Homo sapiens: one gene and its partners. The protein of the gene in region 3 purifies or fractionates together with the protein of the main gene of each other region. This does not show direct contact. Each region holds a gene or a part of one and is shown on either strand. Other genes may lie near its edges.

Region 1 (7,033 bases), on a different chromosome or scaffold from region 3:
GAGAAAATTATATCAGACAATGGCATTCTGCTGTGGTTATTCAGGCTGCATATAAAGGAATGAAAGCAAGACAACTTTTAAGGGAAAAACACAAAGCTTCTATCGTAATACAAAGCACCTACAGAATGTATAGGCAGTATTGTTTCTACCAAAAGCTTCAGTGGGCTACAAAAATCATACAAGAAAAATATAGAGCAAATAAAAAGAAACAGAAAGTATTTCAACACAATGAACTTAAGAAAGAGACTTGTGTTCAGGCAGGTTTTCAGGACATGAACATAAAAAAACAGATTCAGGAACAGCACCAGGCTGCCATTATTATTCAGAAGCATTGTAAAGCCTTTAAAATAAGGAAGCATTATCTCCACCTTAGAGCAACAGTAGTTTCTATTCAAAGAAGATACAGAAAACTAACTGCAGTGCGTACCCAAGCAGTTATTTGTATACAGTCTTATTACAGAGGCTTTAAAGTACGAAAGGATATTCAAAATATGCACCGGGCTGCCACACTAATTCAGTCATTCTATCGAATGCACAGGGCCAAAGTTGATTATGAAACAAAGAAAACTGCAATTGTGGTTATACAGAATTATTATAGGTTGTATGTTAGAGTAAAAACAGAAAGAAAAAACTTTTTAGCAGTTCAGAAATCTGTACGAACTATTCAGGCTGCTTTTAGAGGCATGAAAGTTAGACAAAAATTGAAAAATGTATCAGAGGAAAAGATGGCAGCCATTGTTAACCAATCTGCACTCTGCTGTTACAGAAGTAAAACTCAGTATGAAGCTGTTCAAAGTGAAGGTGTTATGATTCAAGAGTGGTATAAAGCTTCTGGCCTTGCTTGTTCACAGGAAGCAGAGTATCATTCTCAAAGTAGGGCTGCAGTAACAATTCAAAAAGCTTTTTGTAGAATGGTCACAAGAAAACTGGAAACACAGAAATGTGCTGCCCTACGGATTCAGTTCTTCCTTCAGATGGCTGTGTATCGGAGAAGATTTGTTCAGCAGAAAAGAGCTGCTATCACTTTACAGCATTATTTTAGGACGTGGCAAACCAGAAAACAGTTTTTACTATATAGAAAAGCAGCAGTGGTTTTACAAAATCACTACAGAGCATTTCTGTCTGCAAAACATCAAAGACAAGTCTATTTACAGATCAGAAGCAGTGTTATCATTATTCAAGCTAGAAGTAAAGGATTTATACAGAAACGGAAGTTTCAGGAAATTAAAAATAGCACCATAAAAATTCAGGTATTTCTATATTTAATTTAAATATAAAACTGTGAGTCTTTCTTTTGACCAATATTTGTTAGAATGTATAAAATGAGCTTAAGCAGGTCATAAAGAATAGTACTTAGTTGAGGTGACCATTTATCTTCCAAAGTGGAACATTTTTGAAAGAGGGAAAGGGCACTAGTAAGTCAGCCAAGACAGCACAGAACGGGGATTGTTCTGGCCATGGTCACCCTATGTGTGGTGCATTTCAGTATGGGTTAATTGTAGCACTCTTAGAAGAATTTTGAGAAAATAGGAGTCCTGTATTTGGCAAAGTTATTTCTTTAAGTGGAAAATATAAGCTAAGATAAAGTATTATTTGGCATAATATAGGCAAAATAGAGTAACTTTGTTCCTCTAATAATCTATTAACCAGAGCTGTTTGCTGCTTAGGCTAGTAGACATACTTTATTCTGAGTGTTTAGTACTTTGGCTTCCAAATCAATTTTGTATTATTTTGTTTTGTCTATTTGCCAAATGTGTGAGGAATGTACAGTATTATCTCTTTTAAAATATGAAGGAAGTGATAAAGTTTAAGTAATTTGGCCAATGTTGCATAGAGAGAGGCAGATCCAGGAACTGAATCTAAGTACTTCAGCTATTTCTTTTTACCTGCAATAACCCAGGCTTTAACCCAGATGTGATATGTTCATATCTTACTGGATTACTGTTAAATTTAGAAATAATGTTTTAATTCAAGAAATGTCAAGTGCTAGAAATGTGCCAAATGCTGTAGTGGGTGTTATAAATAGACAATGAGTAAGATATACTTAGTTGCTGTCCTCAAGGAACTTAATTGAACAAGGAAGTATAATTATAATACAACATGAGAAGTGTATGTTTCAGGAAACACAGAATGGGAAATCAAGCTAGTCTCCATGGTCAGAGACTTCCCAGAGTGAGTAACATTTAAGTTGAAATGTTACACTGAAGTATGAATTAGAAATAGCCCAGTAAAAGGTATAGAAGAATATTCCAATTGCAAGAGATAACGTGGAAAAATCAAAAAACTAGAAACAATAAAAAGTGATATGGGACCAGGTTGGCAATAGAGGGAGTAAGATTGTGGATAGATTTTTAAGACAGAAAAAATTTAGTCTTTATGCTCCAGACAAAACAAATTCTAGAGGAGTTTAAGCAGGAGAAGACCACAGTCATTTTTATTAAAAAAAAAAAAAAAATTACTCTGGCAGGAATGTGGAAGATGGACTGGAAAAGGAGCAAGACTAGAATCAGGTAGACCAAATGAAAATAGGCAGTAAGCCAGGTGAGAAAGAGTTATAGTTCAGTGTAGGTTTGTGACAATGGGATTGTAAGTTGGCATTATATAGAGCATGAACAAGGAGGCAAGCCATGTTGATGGCTTAAGTAACTCAGCAGAGTTACTCCCTCACACCCTGACATAGGGAATAAAGAGGGAAGAGCAGGTTTTGAGATTGATGATGAATTCAGTTTGGAGTATATAAGATCTGAAGTACCTAGCAGGTAACCCCCTTGAAATATCTAGTAAGGCAGTTGACTATGTTTGTCTGGAGTTCAGGAGAGTAGTGTGAGTATTAGAATTTGATTTGTACATTATGGGCATATGCTAATAATTAAAGTTCTGGGAATAATGAGATCACCAAGGAACAATACATAAAATGAGTGAACAAAGAGGGCCTGGGACTTGAGCCCTGAAGAACATCAAAATTCACAGACATTGACAAGAGAAGCCAACAAGGTGTTAAGAGGGAAAGAAGAAAGGTAAGAGATTAATGGTATCAAGAAACCAAGGTGTTAAGAGGGAAAGAAGAAAGGTAAGAGATTATGGTATCAAATTCCTAACACTACTGAGAAGTTCACAATTGAAAGGTGTTCATTGGATGTATTAGTTATGGTTTTATTCACTTAAAATGATTAAATAGCCAAAATAACAATCTTATAAAAATTTTTTTCTCTTACATAATTACATAATAAAATTGTATTTTACACATATAATTTTTAGCCTATGCCAGTGGTCTAAAACTTTACTGCATATTGGAGTCACCTGGAATTTTAAAACATACTCCTACCTTTAGATATTCTAATTGGTATGGGAAGCAACACAAGCGTGGGATTTGTTTCAAAGCTCCCAGGTGACTCTAATGAGCAGCGAAGTTTGGGAGCCACTGGGATATAGTATACATTACTAAATACTTACATATATATGTAAATATGTATGTTTTATATATATATATATATCAACTTCTCTGTAGCATTTGGGATTTAAGCACACTTTGTTTCTTCTCTCAACCCTTGGTTTCTTGATACCATAATCTCTTAGCTGTCTTCTTTCCCTCTTAACGCTATGTTGGCTTCTCTTGTCAATGTCTGTAAATTTTGATGTTCTTCAGGTGTGATGTGTGTGTGTGTATATATATATATATTTGTAAATATATATATACACACACGTATATCTATACATATATATAATTTTCTCATTAAAACTTTGTTTTAATGGGTCTCAAAATTCTGTGACAGATTTTCGGTCAATTTGTTTTCATTAAAAAGTACTGATTTTAAAAACTAGTAACTTATAACTGCCACAAGCAAAACAAAAACAAAAACACCAAAATGGTCCACAAAACATTCTCCTTTCCTCCTGAAGGTTTTATGATGCAGTGTTACCATTAACCAGTCTTTTACTGTTACAGTTAAATGGCCAATTGAAACAAACAGTTCTGAGACCATTCTTCTACCACTGATTAAGACTGAGGTGGCAGGTATTGGGGATATACATAAATAATGTATGCAGATTTACATAAAAACCGTATACAATATAGTCTGAATGAGTTAAGGTCATCTCAGAGTAATTTTGGCCATATATAATTATTGCATTATCAACTGAATTTAGAACCTAATCTAAATATACGTTGTGCCTATAGTATTTGTTGTGCTGCGGGATAATTAAGGAATCAGAGAGACCGAGGGATTTGAGGAGGAATTATTTAATTATTTATGTGCACCGACCCAGTCGGATTAACATCCAAAGAGGACTGAGCCCTGAACAAAGAGTCAAGCTACCTTTTAAGCATTTCGTGGGGCATGGGGAGATCTGTGCAGGGGGAAGCGTATTACAGAAGAGAGAAACAAAGACAGTTATTCAAGTAAGAGATGCATTACATTATTTCTTACTTTTTAAGGAACAACATGTTTTACAACTTGAGATTATCTGTCTAGTGTCCTTGCAGCTGCACAGCTAGAGAAACAGTCTTCACAATGCCTGGGAAAGGGAGAGATAAGGCTCACTAGCCACAGAGAGAAAAACACAGTTAATTTTAAAGGACTCCAGCCCTTTCTCTTCCCAAGGGGAATTGGGTTTTCTTACATACAACTGAGTTTTTGCTTACACAGTCTTTAATTTCTTTTAATTCCTCTTCCTGTAGGGATGTTGGAGTCAAATAGACTTGGGTTCAAATCTTGACTCTGTCACTTAACAGCTATATGCTAACAAGTCCTTCTTAATTTCAATTTTGGATTTTTTTCCTTTTTTATAAAACAGAGATCTTAACCATTTTATAAGATATTTATAAATATTAAGTAAGACAACTCTGCCACTTATTAACCTGTGTGACATCAACAAGTTACTCAATTTCTCTAGGCCTTGATTTCCTCATCTCTAAATTAGAGATAATAGTATTATCTACCCATGTGATTATTAAGGACTAATCTTCTTAGTGCTTAGTTCAATAAGTTGTAGCTGTCATGTAAACCTTTAGTCTTCCAGAAGGTTGTCAAAATCAGAAAGTCTGACAGTCCTATCACAGGAGCTCTCAGGATTCTCCTGCAGGCTGAACACAGAACCCAAAGTGAATATGGATTGGGAAGAATTCCTCTTTCTCCCCAGAACCTGCAGTAGGTCAATGTGTTCATTTTCTTTTCTTCCAAATGGATTGAGGTGATGAGGATAATTTACATAATGTGGGGCTTTTCAGACATGTGTGTCTTACAATTTATAAATACTGGTTAGGGTTTTGTTAGGCTGGGCTGGCAGCCAGCCATAAGGTATGTGTGATAAAGCACATAATACGTGTTCACTATAGTAAGCACCACTGTTCTCAGAAGACTCATTACATGTCAAAGTCTAAAAGAGTCATGATATGACTATGCAATTTATTTTTGTCTGCACTAACCTTATTTTAACTGTCTTTATACTGATTTGTCTTATTTACAAAAAAAAAGAGACAACTCATTGCATACTTGTTATATTTATGTATTTAATAGGCTATGTGGAGGAGATATAGAGCCAAGAAATATTTATGTAAAGTGAAAGCTGCCTGCAAGATTCAAGCCTGGTATAGATGTTGGAGAGCACACAAAGAATATCTAGCTATATTAAAAGCTGTTAAAATTATTCAAGGTTGCTTCTATACCAAACTAGAGAGAACACGGTAATGTATCATAGTTCTGTGGAGAGTGTAAAAGTATTTGTGTGTGATAGCTAAGTCTTTACATAAAATAACACTGCTTATTGATTTTTATTTTAAATATTTGTTATGCTTAATTTATATGGTTGGTTTTGTTGATATTTTCTTTATTAAGGAAACAAAATACATCTCTCGTACTGTCTTGCTTTTTTGAGATAGAGCATAGCCTTTAATTAATATAATCTAAAAATATTATATACTTGATTAATTCAGGTTCATAAGGATTAGAGTAAGGACAGAGACGTAGGAAGTGAATAAAATCATTTAGTTAAGACTTGGTTTTCTTATTAGTGCTTTGGGCCATTTTGCTGGGTGACTTAACTACTGGCAAAATTTGTTTTCTTACTCATTCTTTTTTTCTTTGAACTTTGTATTATTCCTCATACTCTTTGTCATTAATGATGAAGACCCTAATTACCAACCTGTCTATGCTAATTGTATTTCACTATTCCTAGCTTATTTCTCACACACACATTTTCAGAAGCTGTTACCAGATCATCTTTTTTTAAGTTCATAGTATAAGAATTTTTCTTCAGCTCCCAGAGTTGATGAATTATTGAATCAATGATGGTTTTAAAGATGGTTTAGGAAGGCACACTAGTGTGAGAGGAATTTTTGGATGAAGCCCATGGGTAGAAGCAGGGCTTAACATATACAGTTGATCGCATGAAGATAGAAGTAGAATGTTGGTTACCAGAGGCTAGGATAGGGAGAGGGGAGGGGTGGATAACGACAGGCTGGTTAATGGGTACAAAAATACAGTGAGAAGGAATAAGATTTACTGTTTAGTAGCACAATAGGGCAACTATAGTTAACAATAATTTATTGTATATTTCAAAATAACTAGAGGAATAGAATTAGAAGTTTCCTAATAGAAGGAAATGATAAATGTTCGAGGTGATGGATATCCCATTTACCCTGATTTGATCATTACTCATTGTGTGCTTGAATCAAAATATCACATGTACTCTGTAAATATTTACAACTATTATATATCCATAAAAATAAAAATTAAAAAGCATATAAAGATACAGTTGCTACTATCAGCTATTAAGGACCAGTATCTAATTTTCCTGTAACAGATGCTGAATTTTTCTCAATGGTGTTTGGTCCTATTTTCTAAGAAACATGGCAACAAAACAAGCTACTCATTGTACTTTTTCCACATTATCAAGAACAGAGTAGAAAACCTGTCCATTCTCACATTTTATCTCTTAGTATTATGTTGATCCCTAAAATTTAATCTCTAGTGCTCAGATTTTTTAAAATTTTTCTCCAGTTCTGTTTACGAAATATCTCTACTTAGATATTTTG
Region 2 (7,033 bases), on a different chromosome or scaffold from region 3:
GTAATTACATTAAGTGCAAGTGAACCAAAACAGTTCAGATAAAAGACAAAGTCTGTCAGACTGGATTAAAAAATTATTGGCATATTCAACATCATTAATCATCCGTGATATGAAATTTAAAACCAAAATGAAATACGTCCTCACATCCACACAAATGGCTAGAACTACAAAAACTGACAATACCAAGTATTGGAGAGGATGTGGGCAACCAAAACAAACTCTTATGTCTCTTCACTTTGTTGATGAGTGTAAACTGTTACAACCACTTTAAGGGACTGTTTGGCAGGATGGCAGGATCTACTAAAGCCGACCATATGCACACTCCATGACTTAGCAATTCCACTCGTATATATCCAACAGAAATGTTTACGTATGTATACCAAATCACACGTACAAGAATGGCCTCAATGGTCCCCAAACAGAAATAATCCATATATCCAACAACAGTAAAATGGATAAATCATGGCACAGTTGTATAACAGAATATTATAAAGCAATGAAAAAGAATGAACTACTGCCACACTCAACCACATGGATGAATCTAACAGGCGTAATGTTAAGAGAAAGAAGCCACACAAAAATGAATACACACCATATATATGATTTCCTTTATATAAAGTTTACATATGGACACAACTAATTTATAGAAGACAGAAAGTAGTCACCTTTCAGAGGGAGATTAGTGACTTAGAGGGTCATGACAAAGGCTTCTGGGGTACTAGTACAGTAGGATAAATTGGTTAAATAAGTATGTTCACTTTATTTGTTAATTTTACTATATGGATGTTAAACTTTAATTTCAAAAGTTTATTTAAAAAAAACCCAAACACTGATTCTTATCAGCAAAAACAAAAACAATCTTGGAGAAAATTGGAACAAGTATAAGTCAGAAAAAAAAATTTGGTATAATAATAAATATACAAAGAATCAATGTAAGATAAACCAGTAAAACAAAATTTGAACACACCAACAGAACAACAAAAGACATGAATAATGTAAAGGAAAATAAATAGGCCAATAAGCATAATGAAATACAATTCAGCCAGGCACACTGGCTAAGAGGTGAAGGTGGAAGAATCACTTGAGCCCAGAAGCTCATGGCCAGCCTGAGCAACATGGCAAGACTTCATCTTTAAAACTAAAATAAAATCGAAAAATAAAAAGTAATACAATTCAAAACAATCATGAAATAGTGTTAAAAATAAAAACCATATGACTGTCTCAATAGACATGAAAAAGCATTCAATAAAATCCAGCATCTCTTCATGATAAAAGCCCTCAACAAACTAGGCATCAAAACAATATCCCCAAAATAACAAGAGCCATCTATGATAAATCCACAACTAACATCATGCTGAAAGGGCAAAAGCTAGAGGCATTCACCTTGAAATTAGAAAAAGACAAGGATGCTCACTCTAACCACTCCTATTCAACATAGTACTGGTAGTCCCAGCCAGAGCAATCAGGAAAGGAAAAGAAATAAAATGCACCCAAATAAGAAAAGAAGTCAAACTATCTCTCTTCACAGATGATATGCTTCTATACCTACAGAACCCTAAAGATTCCACCAGGCCAGGTGCGGTGGCTCACGCCTGTAATCCCAGCGCTTTGGGAGGCCAAGACAGGGTGGATCACCTGAGGTCAGGAGTTTGAGACCAGCCTGGCCAACATGGTGAAACCCCATCTCTACTAAAAATACAAAAATTAGCTAGGCACGGTGGCAGGCACCTGTAATCCCAGCTACTCGGGAGGCTGAGGCAGGAGAATCTCTTGAACCCGGGAGGCAGAGGTTGCAGTGAGCTGAGCTCGTGCCAGTGCACTCCAGCCTAGGCAACAAACAAGAAAACTCCATCTCAAAAAAATAAAAAAAGTTCCACCAAAGGCGCCTGGAACTGATAAAGAACTTCAATAAAGCCTCAGAATATAAAATTAATGTACAAAAGTCAGCAGCATTTCTATACGCCAGTAACGTTCAAGCTGAGAGCCAAATCATGAATGCAATCCCATTTACCATGTCCACACAAAAAATAAAATACCTAGAAATACATCTAACTAAGATGTATTTCTACCAGGTATTTTTACATCCATACATCTTGGTTAGATATATTTTTACCAAGTAAAAGATCTCTACAAGGAGAACTATAAAACACTGCTGGAGGAAATCACAGATGACACAAACAAATGGAAAAACATTATATGCTCGTGGATTGGAAGACTCAATATCGTTCAAATGACCATATTGCCCAAAGCAATCTACAGATTTAATGCTATTTCTATCAAACTACCAACATCATTTTTCACAGAACTAGAAAAATATTCTAAAATATGCATGGAACAAAAAAAAAGCCTAAATAGCCAAAGCAATCCTAAGCAGAAAGAACAAAATTGGAGGCATCACATTACCACTGGATTTCAAACTATACTATAAGGCTACAGTAACCAAAACAGCATGTTACTGGTACAAAAACAGACACATACACCAATGGAACAGAAAAGAGAACCCAGAAATAAAGCTGCAGACCTACAGCACCTCATCTTTGACAAAATGGGGAAAGATCCCTCTATTCAGTAAAGGGTGCTGGGAAAGTTGGCTAGCCATATGCTGAAGAATGAAACTGGACCCCTACCTTTCACCATACATAAAAATTAACTCAAGATGGATTAAAGATTTAAAGTAAGACCTCAAACTATAAGAATCCTAGAAAAAAACCTAGGAAATACTTTTCTGGACACTGGCCTTGGGAGAGAATTTATGACAAAGTCCTCAAAAGCAATTGCAACAAAAACAAAAACTGACAAGTAGGACCTAATTAAACTAAAGAGCTTCTGCACAGTAAAAGAAACTATCAACCCAACAAATGGACAACCTATAGAATGGGAGAAAATATTCACAAACTATGTGTTGGACAAAGGTCTAATATCCAGGATCTACAGGGAATTTTAACAATTCAATAAGAAAAAAAAAACTCATAAAAAGTGGGCCAAAAAATATGAACAGACATTTCTCAAAAGAAGATATACAAGCAGCCAACAAACATGAAAAAAATCCTCAACATCACTAATCATCAGAGAAATGCAAATCCAAACTACAATGAGATACCACCTCATACTCCTCAGAATGCCTATTAAAATAAAAAAAACAGTTGCTGGCAAGGCTACAGAGAAAAGGGAATTCGTGTTCACTGATGGTGGGAATGTAGATAAGGTTAGCCATTGTGGGAAGCAGTTTGGAGATTTTTTAAAGAACTCAGAACTACCAAGGTTGGGCACAGTGGCTCATGTCTGTAATCCCAGCACTCTGGGAGGCTGAGGCAGGTGGATCACTTCAGGTCAACAGTTCAAGACCAGCCTGCACAACATGGTGAAACCCCATCTCTACCAAAAAATACAAAAATTAGCTAAGCTTGGTGGCGGGCGGGCGTATGTAGTCCCAGTTACTCAGGAGGCTGAGGTGGGAGAATTGCCTGAACCCAGGAGGTGGAAGTTGCAGTGAGCTAAGATTGTACCACTGTACTCCAGCCTGGGTGACAGAGTGAGGCTCTGTCTCAAAAAAAAAAAAAAAAACCACAAACAACCTCCCAAAAAAACCAAAAAACATAGAACTACCAGTCAACCCAGCAATCCCATTACTGGTTATATATCCAAAAGAAAAGAAAATGTTCCACCAAAAGACACATGCACTCATATGTTCATCACAGCAACGACACTGACTCAACCTGGGTGCCCATCAGTGGTAGACTGGGTAGAGAATGTGACACACACACACACACACACACACACACACACGGACACACACACACCACAGAATACTATAAAGCCATAAAAAAGAACAAAATCATGCCTTTCGCAGCAACATGGATGCAGCTAGAAGCCATTATCTTAAGTGAGTTAATGCAGAAACAGTAAACCAAATACCGTATGTTCTCACTTGTGGAAGCTAAACATTGGATACACATGGACATAAAGATGGAAACAATAAGCACTGAGGACTGTTAAAAAGGGGAAAAGAGGAAGGGACAGAAGGGGGAAAAGAGTTAAAAAACTAACTACTGGACACTATGCTCACTGCCTAAGTGATGCAATCAACTGTACCTCAAACTTCAGCATCACACAATATACACATGAAACAAATCTGCACGTTACCCCGAATTTAAAATAAAAGTTGAAATTATTTTTTAAAAAATCATGAGAGCTAGGCACAGTGGCTCATGCCTATAATCCCAGCACTTTGGGAGCCCGAGGTGGGCAGATCACCTGAGGTCAGGAGTTCAAGACCAGCTTGACAAATATGGTGAAACTCTGTCTCTACTAAAAATACAAAAATTAGTTTGTGGCGGTGCACGCCTGTAATCCCAGCTACTCAGGAGGCTGAGGTGTGAGAATCGCTTGAACCCAGGAGATGGACGTTGCGGTGAGCTGAGATCGCACGACCGCACTCCAGCCTGAGCAACAGAGGGAGACCCTGTCTCAAAAAAAAAAAAAAAAAAAAAACCATGAGACTTTTCTTTCTTTTGAATCAATCTGGCCGTGATTTAAAGGCAGATAATAGTCAATTATGACCTGGGTAATGAAAACAGGTCAGAAGTGGTCATGGAGACTCAAAACAGATCTGTCTGATTTTAATCAGAAGCATCGACCTTAAGAGTCAAACAGAGGCTGGGCGTGGTGGCTTACACCTGTAATCCCAGCACTTTGGGAGGCTTGAGCCCAGGAGTTCAAGACCAGCCCTGACAGGATGGTGAAATCCTGTCTCTATAAAAAAAATTAAAAAATTAGCTGAGCATGGTAGTGTGCACCTATAGTCCCTGCTATTTGGGAGGCTGAGGTGGGAGGATTGATTGAGCCTGGGAGGTGGAGGCTTCAGTGAAATGCGTTTGTGCCACGGCACTCCAGCCTGGGTAACAGAGGAAGACTCTGTCTCAAAAAAAGAAAAAAAAGAAAAAAAAAAAAAGCCAAAAAGATCTGTCATAACCTGGGGTAAGGCACTCAACCTCTCCCAACTTTACTTCTCTAACCTATACAATGTGGATAATATAATTTTGAAGGGCTTAAAATCATACACTCGCATATATGTTTGTCATGTGATTAGTACTGAATAAAAGCTTCTTTTCCTCTCTGGCGCAGGGAGACTGATAGAATTTTTTTTTTTTTTTGAGATGGAGTCTCGTGGAATCTCGCTCTGTCGCCCGGGCTGGAATGCAACGGCATGATCTCGGCTCACTGCAACCTCCGTCTCCTGGGTTCAAGCGATTCTCCTGCCTCAGCCTCCTGAGTAGCTGAGATTACAGGTGCCCACCACCATGCCTAATTTTTTGTACTTTTAGTAGAGACGGGGTTTTACCATGTTGACAAGGCTGGTGTCGAACTCCTGTCCTCAAGTGATCCACCTGCCTTGGCCTCTCGAAAGTGCTGGGATTATAGGTGTGAGCCACCAGGCCCAGCCCTGACAGACTATTAAAACAGTTTCAAATAGATTTTGGTGAATTTATACCCTTACCTGCTGCAAATTCCTCAATTGTCATCAGTGGGAACCGGATTAAGGAAAGTGCTTTTCCTAGAACTTTTTGTTTATTCCCAAAAGTCACAGGTAATTGTTGTCTCTGACATTCTGCTTCTGCCCAGCGTACAACAGCTCCAAAAAGTCGACTTTCTCGAATACTGAGTGTGTCTCTCTCTAAAACTGCACAGAGTGTATCTATAGGCAAAATACAAAATAAACCCAATTAGAAATATTTTAGCTCTCTAACCAAGCAATACCAACAGACACACTTATATTAAGTTTTCAGATCTCAACAAAAAATAGGTTAGACACTTAAAACTACAGACTTTATACTTTAAAATACTAAATAATTAAAGGACTTAAACTCCAAAGTGTTCCATAAAAATCAGTTTAACAATCAATTTATTACTTACCATACATGCAATATTAAGATACAGTACTCTCCTTATATATTTATGCCATTTATCAAGTAAACTCAACTATCCAGAATAAGATTAACAAGCCACAGAAAAAGGTTCCAATTACATAAATTCTTAAAGTCTACAGATTATAATTCATTCGTTCATTCAGTAAATATTTATTATTAAGCACTACGTGCCAGGTACTATTAGGCAATTTTATATATATATATATATATATATATATATGTATGTATATATTTTGGATATAGAGTCATAGAGTCTCATTCTGTTGCTCAGGCTGGAGTGCAGAGGCACAATCTCGGCTCAATGCAACCTCTGCCTCCTAGGTTCAAGCAATTCTCCTGCCTCAGCCTCCTGGGTAGCTTGGATTACTGGCACGGGCCACCACACCTGGCTAATTTTTATATTTTTAGTAGAGACAGGGTTTCACCATGTTGGCCAGCCTGGTCTCAAACTTCCGACCTGAAGTGATCTGCCTGCCTCGGCCTTCCAAAGTGCTGGGATTACAGGCGTGAGCCACCGCGCCCAGCCAGCACTGATATATCACTGAACAAAAAGTTAAAAATTCCTGCCCTCATGGAGCTTACATTCTAATGAGGAGAAACAGATTAAATAAACACAAGTAAATTCGAGTATCTTAGATGATATACATGGGCAAATATGTCAGGTTAAGGAGAATCAGAAATGCAGTTTAAAATAGGAAGGGGCCAGGCATGGTGACCCATGCCAGTAGTCCCAGCAATTTAAGAGGCTGAGACAGGAGCATGGCTTGAGCCCAGGAGTTTCAGGCCAGCCTGGGCAATATAGTGAGACCCCATCTCTACAAAAAAGTTTTTAAAAATTAGCCAGGCATGGTGGCATGCACTTGTAGTCTCAGCTACTCAGGAGGCTGAGACAGCAGGATCACTCGAGCCTGGGAGGTTGCAGGCTGCAGTGAGCCATGATCATGCCATTGTACTCCAGCCCAGGCAACAGAGTGAGACTGTGCCAAAAAATAATAAAATAAAATAAAATCGGGTGGTTTAGGCAGGCTTCACTTATGCCAAGACATGAAGGAAGTGGGGGAGTAAGCCAAATAGATACCTAGAGGAATAGTATTCCAGGACTAAAA
Region 3 (4,578 bases):
TTTTTTCTCTCAGGATAATTCTTTTCAGAGACCTGCCTCTGCAAAGAACTGGCCGCATGGTTCCCGTGTCTAGTGTTCCATCTATGAAATAGGGCAGTTCCTCCCACCTTTCCCACCCCAACAGGTTGTTGGAAGAACAAAGGAACTCAAAATGACCTACGGTGCTCAGTGGTCCTATGCAGACGGAGGCACTGAGGGGTAACAGCTAATCCTGCTAGGGCTCAACTCCTCTCAGGATGAAGGCTTTTGAAGAATCTGCTTTTCTCTATTCAGTCAGAGGCACCCCTTCTAGCCCCAGTCATCACCGGAGCTGCAGCAAGCCTGTCAGTTTTCTCAGAAGTCCAATTTAAAACACTACACGTTCAATGTCTGTGTACTCCAAGAAGGGACTCATGGTGGAGCTGCGAGGGTTACTGGAGTGCCGGAGAAAGCCCAGCCCTGCTCACCTCCTCCAACCCCAGGGCTGACTCCAGCCTACCCTGCCCTCCCTGCAGTCTCTAAAGCACACAGGAGAAGGAACCACAAGACTGAGCTGAACTCCAAGTACAAACTTTATTTCTATTACAAGGAAGTTAATAATTATTATAACAGTAAAATAAAAACAAGGGGAAGGGGCTCTGACACTTGGTTTTCAGAGCAAGTGTGGGGCTGGGGCAGAGCCCAACATACCTGCTGTGGGGACAGGGAGCCCTCAGCCCTCCCCATTAGAAAGCAGTGAGGACAAAAGATCCATGCTCCCCCGGGAACAGAAGGCAGTGATGCCAAATGCCAAGGAAGCAGCTTAAAACACAGCCCCCGGTCCACTCACCTCCAGCTCAACACATCAAAAGCCTCGTTACTGACAGACATTGCAACTGGCCTGAGCACCTTACCAGAGCGCCTCATACACACCTGGGGCCCAATCGAGTGTGGACAGACGCAGTACACGGAGAGGTTGCCCAAAAGCCCCCAAATTTAGGCCCCAACAGGGCAGAGAATCACCTTACTGGTGGCTACCAGGTTTCCAAAATCTTCCCCTCCTTCCACTGGGACCACACAGCACCAAGGGGCAGTGGCGACAATAAGTCAAAAGGGAGCCCTGGCAGCCGAGGCTGCAGCTTGTATTTCACTGCTGCCGAAAGGTAGCAGCTAAGGCTGAAGCGTTCCTCAACCGCCACCCTGCTCCCTTCCCTCAAACCCAAACCCCCACAGCACAACCTCAAAAGACACAAAATGGCCATAACCTAGAAAAATCTAAAATCTGGAAAAACTCTCCCACCCAAAGAGCCAAAGAGGTGGGCCTGCACAGCGGCAAGTGCTGCTGTGCACAGAAGACAGGAACCGATGTAAAGTCTCTGGAGACACCATTACTCCTCCTCTTCCTCTTCTGCATCCCCAGCTCCCTGTTGCTTGGAAGGCTTTGCCTGGTGAACAACACAACACAAACGAAGCTTTACATAAAAAGTGAAAAAGCATTACTCCTCCCCTGGATCCCCGAAAATGTCCCGCTTCCTTAGAAACCTCCTTCTCAAAAGCCAAAGGAACAATCTTTGAACCACAACCAGCCTGGTCCCAACAACTTCTACAACTTCAGGAGCCACACAAGCCCCACCATGTCTGAGTCCCCCACTGAGCATCATGGGCTGGAGCCCACCTTACCTTTGCAGTTCTGCTGCGGTAGTTGGCAGCTGCAGGGGTGACCCGGGAATTCCTGCCACCTTCACTCCTACCACTGAAAGAAAACAATTAGAAACTAGCTCCTGAAGTGTCCCTGAGCAAAGGTCAACAAACTCAGAGGGAACAGGAAGCAGTCCTATGCTAGCAGACAAACCCCAAAAAACCCATAGGCCACAAAATAATTTTTTTGGAGTCAGGTGACAATACAGGGAAAATCCATACTCCTCCCCTTACCATGCAAGTACCTCAGTCTTACCCCAGGCCTGGCAAGGGTAACCAGGCCTTTGCCCATGTTCGCTTCAGCTACTCCCAAGCCCCATTCCTGGGCTACTGATTCTTACCTAGCTCCGTATCTCCCTGAAGGCCCAGGGGAGAAAGAGGGCACAATGTTTTCTGGGTAGAGATTTTGAGGAGGGCGAATCACTGAAACGTGCCCAGGGGCTATGGCCCCATTCTGGCTGTCTCGATTCCGCCCCTGGATGTCCTGGCTGTCTGAGTTGCTGAGCTTCGGCACACAAGGAGAGCTGGGCTGGCACCCAGGTCTGGGGCCTGATGTTGATCTCGATAGCTGGTTATAGGTAGCTGTCATATTGTTAATGGGTCGGCTGGGAGGCAGACAGGAGGTGGGCCCATTAGCTGTTTCCTGCTTAGTATCATCCAGGTAACCAGAAGACAGGTCTCCTGAGAAGAGAAAATGGTAACAGCTTTAGGAAAAAGCCTGCTCTGGCTATAGTGCCAGGTTTAGGGCAGGAACAAAAAGATTCCAGATAGAAGACAACTGCTCAGCCAGGCGTGGTGGCTCATGCCTGTAAACCCAGCACTTTGGGAGGCCGAGGTGCGGGGATCACCTGAGGTCAAGAGTTAGAGACCAGCCTGGCCAACATGGTGAAATTCCATCTCTACTAAAAAAAAAATACAAAATTAGCCAGGTGAGGTGGCACACAGCTATAGTCTCAGCTACTCAGGAGGCTGAGACCAGGAGAATCACTTAAACCCAGGAGGTGAAGACTGCAGTGAGCCAAGATCATGCCACTGCACTCCAGCCTGGACAAGACAGAGCAAGACTGTGTCTCAAAAAAAAAAAAGACAACTGCTCACCCCAAAAGGCTGCTGGAACCCACATCTCCAGGGCAGAGATGGGGATATTTTATCAATTCTGCACATATTATCTGAGTCCTCAAAGACAGCCTCCTAACTATTCAACAATAGTGTGCAAGCAAACCTTGAAAAATAATTTTTTTTTTGAGATGGAGTCTTGCTCTGTCGCCCAGACTGGAGTGCAATGGCATGATTTTGGCTCACTGCAGCCTCTGCCTCCTGGATTCAAGTGATTCTCCTGCCTCAGCCTCCCAAGTAGCTGGGACTACTGGCGCCCGCCACCACGCCCGGCTAATTTTTGTATTTTTAGTAGAGACGGGGTTTCATGATGTCAGCCAGGCTGGTCTTGAACTCCCAACCTTGTGATCCGCCCACCTCAGCCTCCCAAAGTGCTGGGATTACAGGTGTGAGTCACCATGCCCAGCCAAAAAATAATTTCTAATTGGCTTTGTAGTGGTGAGGTTTCAAAAACAGTTTACTTGCCTAAACATGATGGTCTTAAGTAATAATAATAAGTTTGAGGCTGGGTGTGATGGCTCACACCTGTAATCCCAACACTTTGGGAGGCCGAGCTGGGAGGAACACTTGAGCCCAGGAGTTCAAGATCAGCCTGGACAATGTGGCGAAACCCCAACTCTACAAAAAAAAATTAAAAATTAGCTGGGTGTGTTGGTGGGCACCTAGCCTACCTATAGTCCCAGCTACTCAGGAGGCTAAGAGTGGGAGAATCACTTGAGCTCAAGAGGTTGAGACTGCAGTGATCACGCCACTGCACTCCAGCCTGGATGACAAAGAGACCCTGTCTAAAAAAAATAAATTAAATAAATAAGTTTGAGGTCGGTCACAGTGGCCTACGCATGTAACCCCAATGCTTTGGGAGTCCAAGGCAGGAGGACTACTTGAGGCCAAGAGTTCGAAATCACCCTGGGCAACATAGCAAGACCCTATCTCTACAAAAACAAAAAAATTAGTTGGGTGTAGTAGAGTGTGCCTGTAGTTCCAGCTACTTGGGAGGCTGAGGAGAGAGGATCACTTGAGCCCAGGAGTTTGAGGCTGTGGTAAGCTATGATTGTGCCACTGTACTCCAGCCTGGGTGACAGAGCAAGACTCTGTCTCTACAAAAAAATTAAATAATAATAATAGGTTTGAGTACCCTAAGTGTATTTCAACTTGAAATGGGGGCCCAGGGTAGCTACCATAAGGTCTGCAAATTATCTACAAATAATCCACTAAGTGCACAGATAGGAAACCAGAAACTTATTACAAGCACTTACTACTACATGTATCTCATGGATGTCCGCAAAGCCATTACCCTAAAAATCACACACTTGAGAGAGCTCAGTCTAATGTGGGACCACAACTACCTGCAGAGGAGTCCCCTATGAGACCCTAGTGTGTTTGGAAATTTGAGATGCAGGTAATCCCCACATTAGAGCAGTGGATGGGAAGTGGTAAACAGGCCGGAGCCAGCAGTAGACCTGCGGCCTTGGCTGAGTCCTGGCTAATAAATACCCTGGTGTCTGACACGCCTCCTGGGCAGCTCTGGTGAGGTCTCTTGAGGCTGGGAATCCAGTCTAGGAATCCCCTCTGTCACATGGTTGGTTGCAGTGGCTGGGCGTTGGTCACACTGGTCCTAAACAAGAAAAACCAGAATTAGTACCTCTGAATTGAGTCATTCCCAGAAAAGAGCATGCGATGGGAGGAACAGCAGTGTATTCCTCATCTGGAGGGGGACTTTGACAACCTCTGAAAGTTCTGGGAACTTTCAGAAACCACACATCTGGAATGGTTGCATTCAATCCCATCGGCACATGAGGCACTGAC

What was found. The genes of interacting proteins can lie anywhere in the genome.
Region 1: the proteins of TRAFD1 (region 3) and ASPM purify together in Homo sapiens (affinity purification with mass spectrometry; 3 studies listed by BioGRID and IntAct, with this or other methods). This does not show direct contact.
Region 2: the proteins of TRAFD1 (region 3) and BTBD1 purify together in Homo sapiens (affinity purification with mass spectrometry; 2 studies listed by BioGRID and IntAct, with this or other methods). This does not show direct contact.

What each region holds. Positions count from the first base shown.
Region 1 is NC_000001.11:197,094,648-197,101,680, reverse strand, and holds part of ASPM (abnormal spindle-like microcephaly-associated protein), read left to right. Parts: coding exon 1-1,250; intron 1,251-5,516; coding exon 5,517-5,683; intron 5,684-7,033. UniProt on the Homo sapiens protein: Involved in mitotic spindle regulation and coordination of mitotic processes.
Region 2 is NC_000015.10:83,036,231-83,043,263, forward strand, and holds part of BTBD1 (BTB/POZ domain-containing protein 1), read right to left. Parts: intron 5,696-7,033; coding exon 5,498-5,695; intron 1-5,497.
Region 3 is NC_000012.12:112,149,560-112,154,137, reverse strand, and holds the end of TRAFD1 (TRAF-type zinc finger domain-containing protein 1), read right to left. Parts: intron 4,388-4,578; coding exon 4,267-4,387; intron 2,338-4,266; coding exon 1,998-2,337; intron 1,712-1,997; coding exon 1,639-1,711; intron 1,404-1,638; coding exon 1,347-1,403; 3' UTR 534-1,346; downstream 1-533. UniProt on the Homo sapiens protein: Negative feedback regulator that controls excessive innate immune responses. Regulates both Toll-like receptor 4 (TLR4) and DDX58/RIG1-like helicases (RLH) pathways.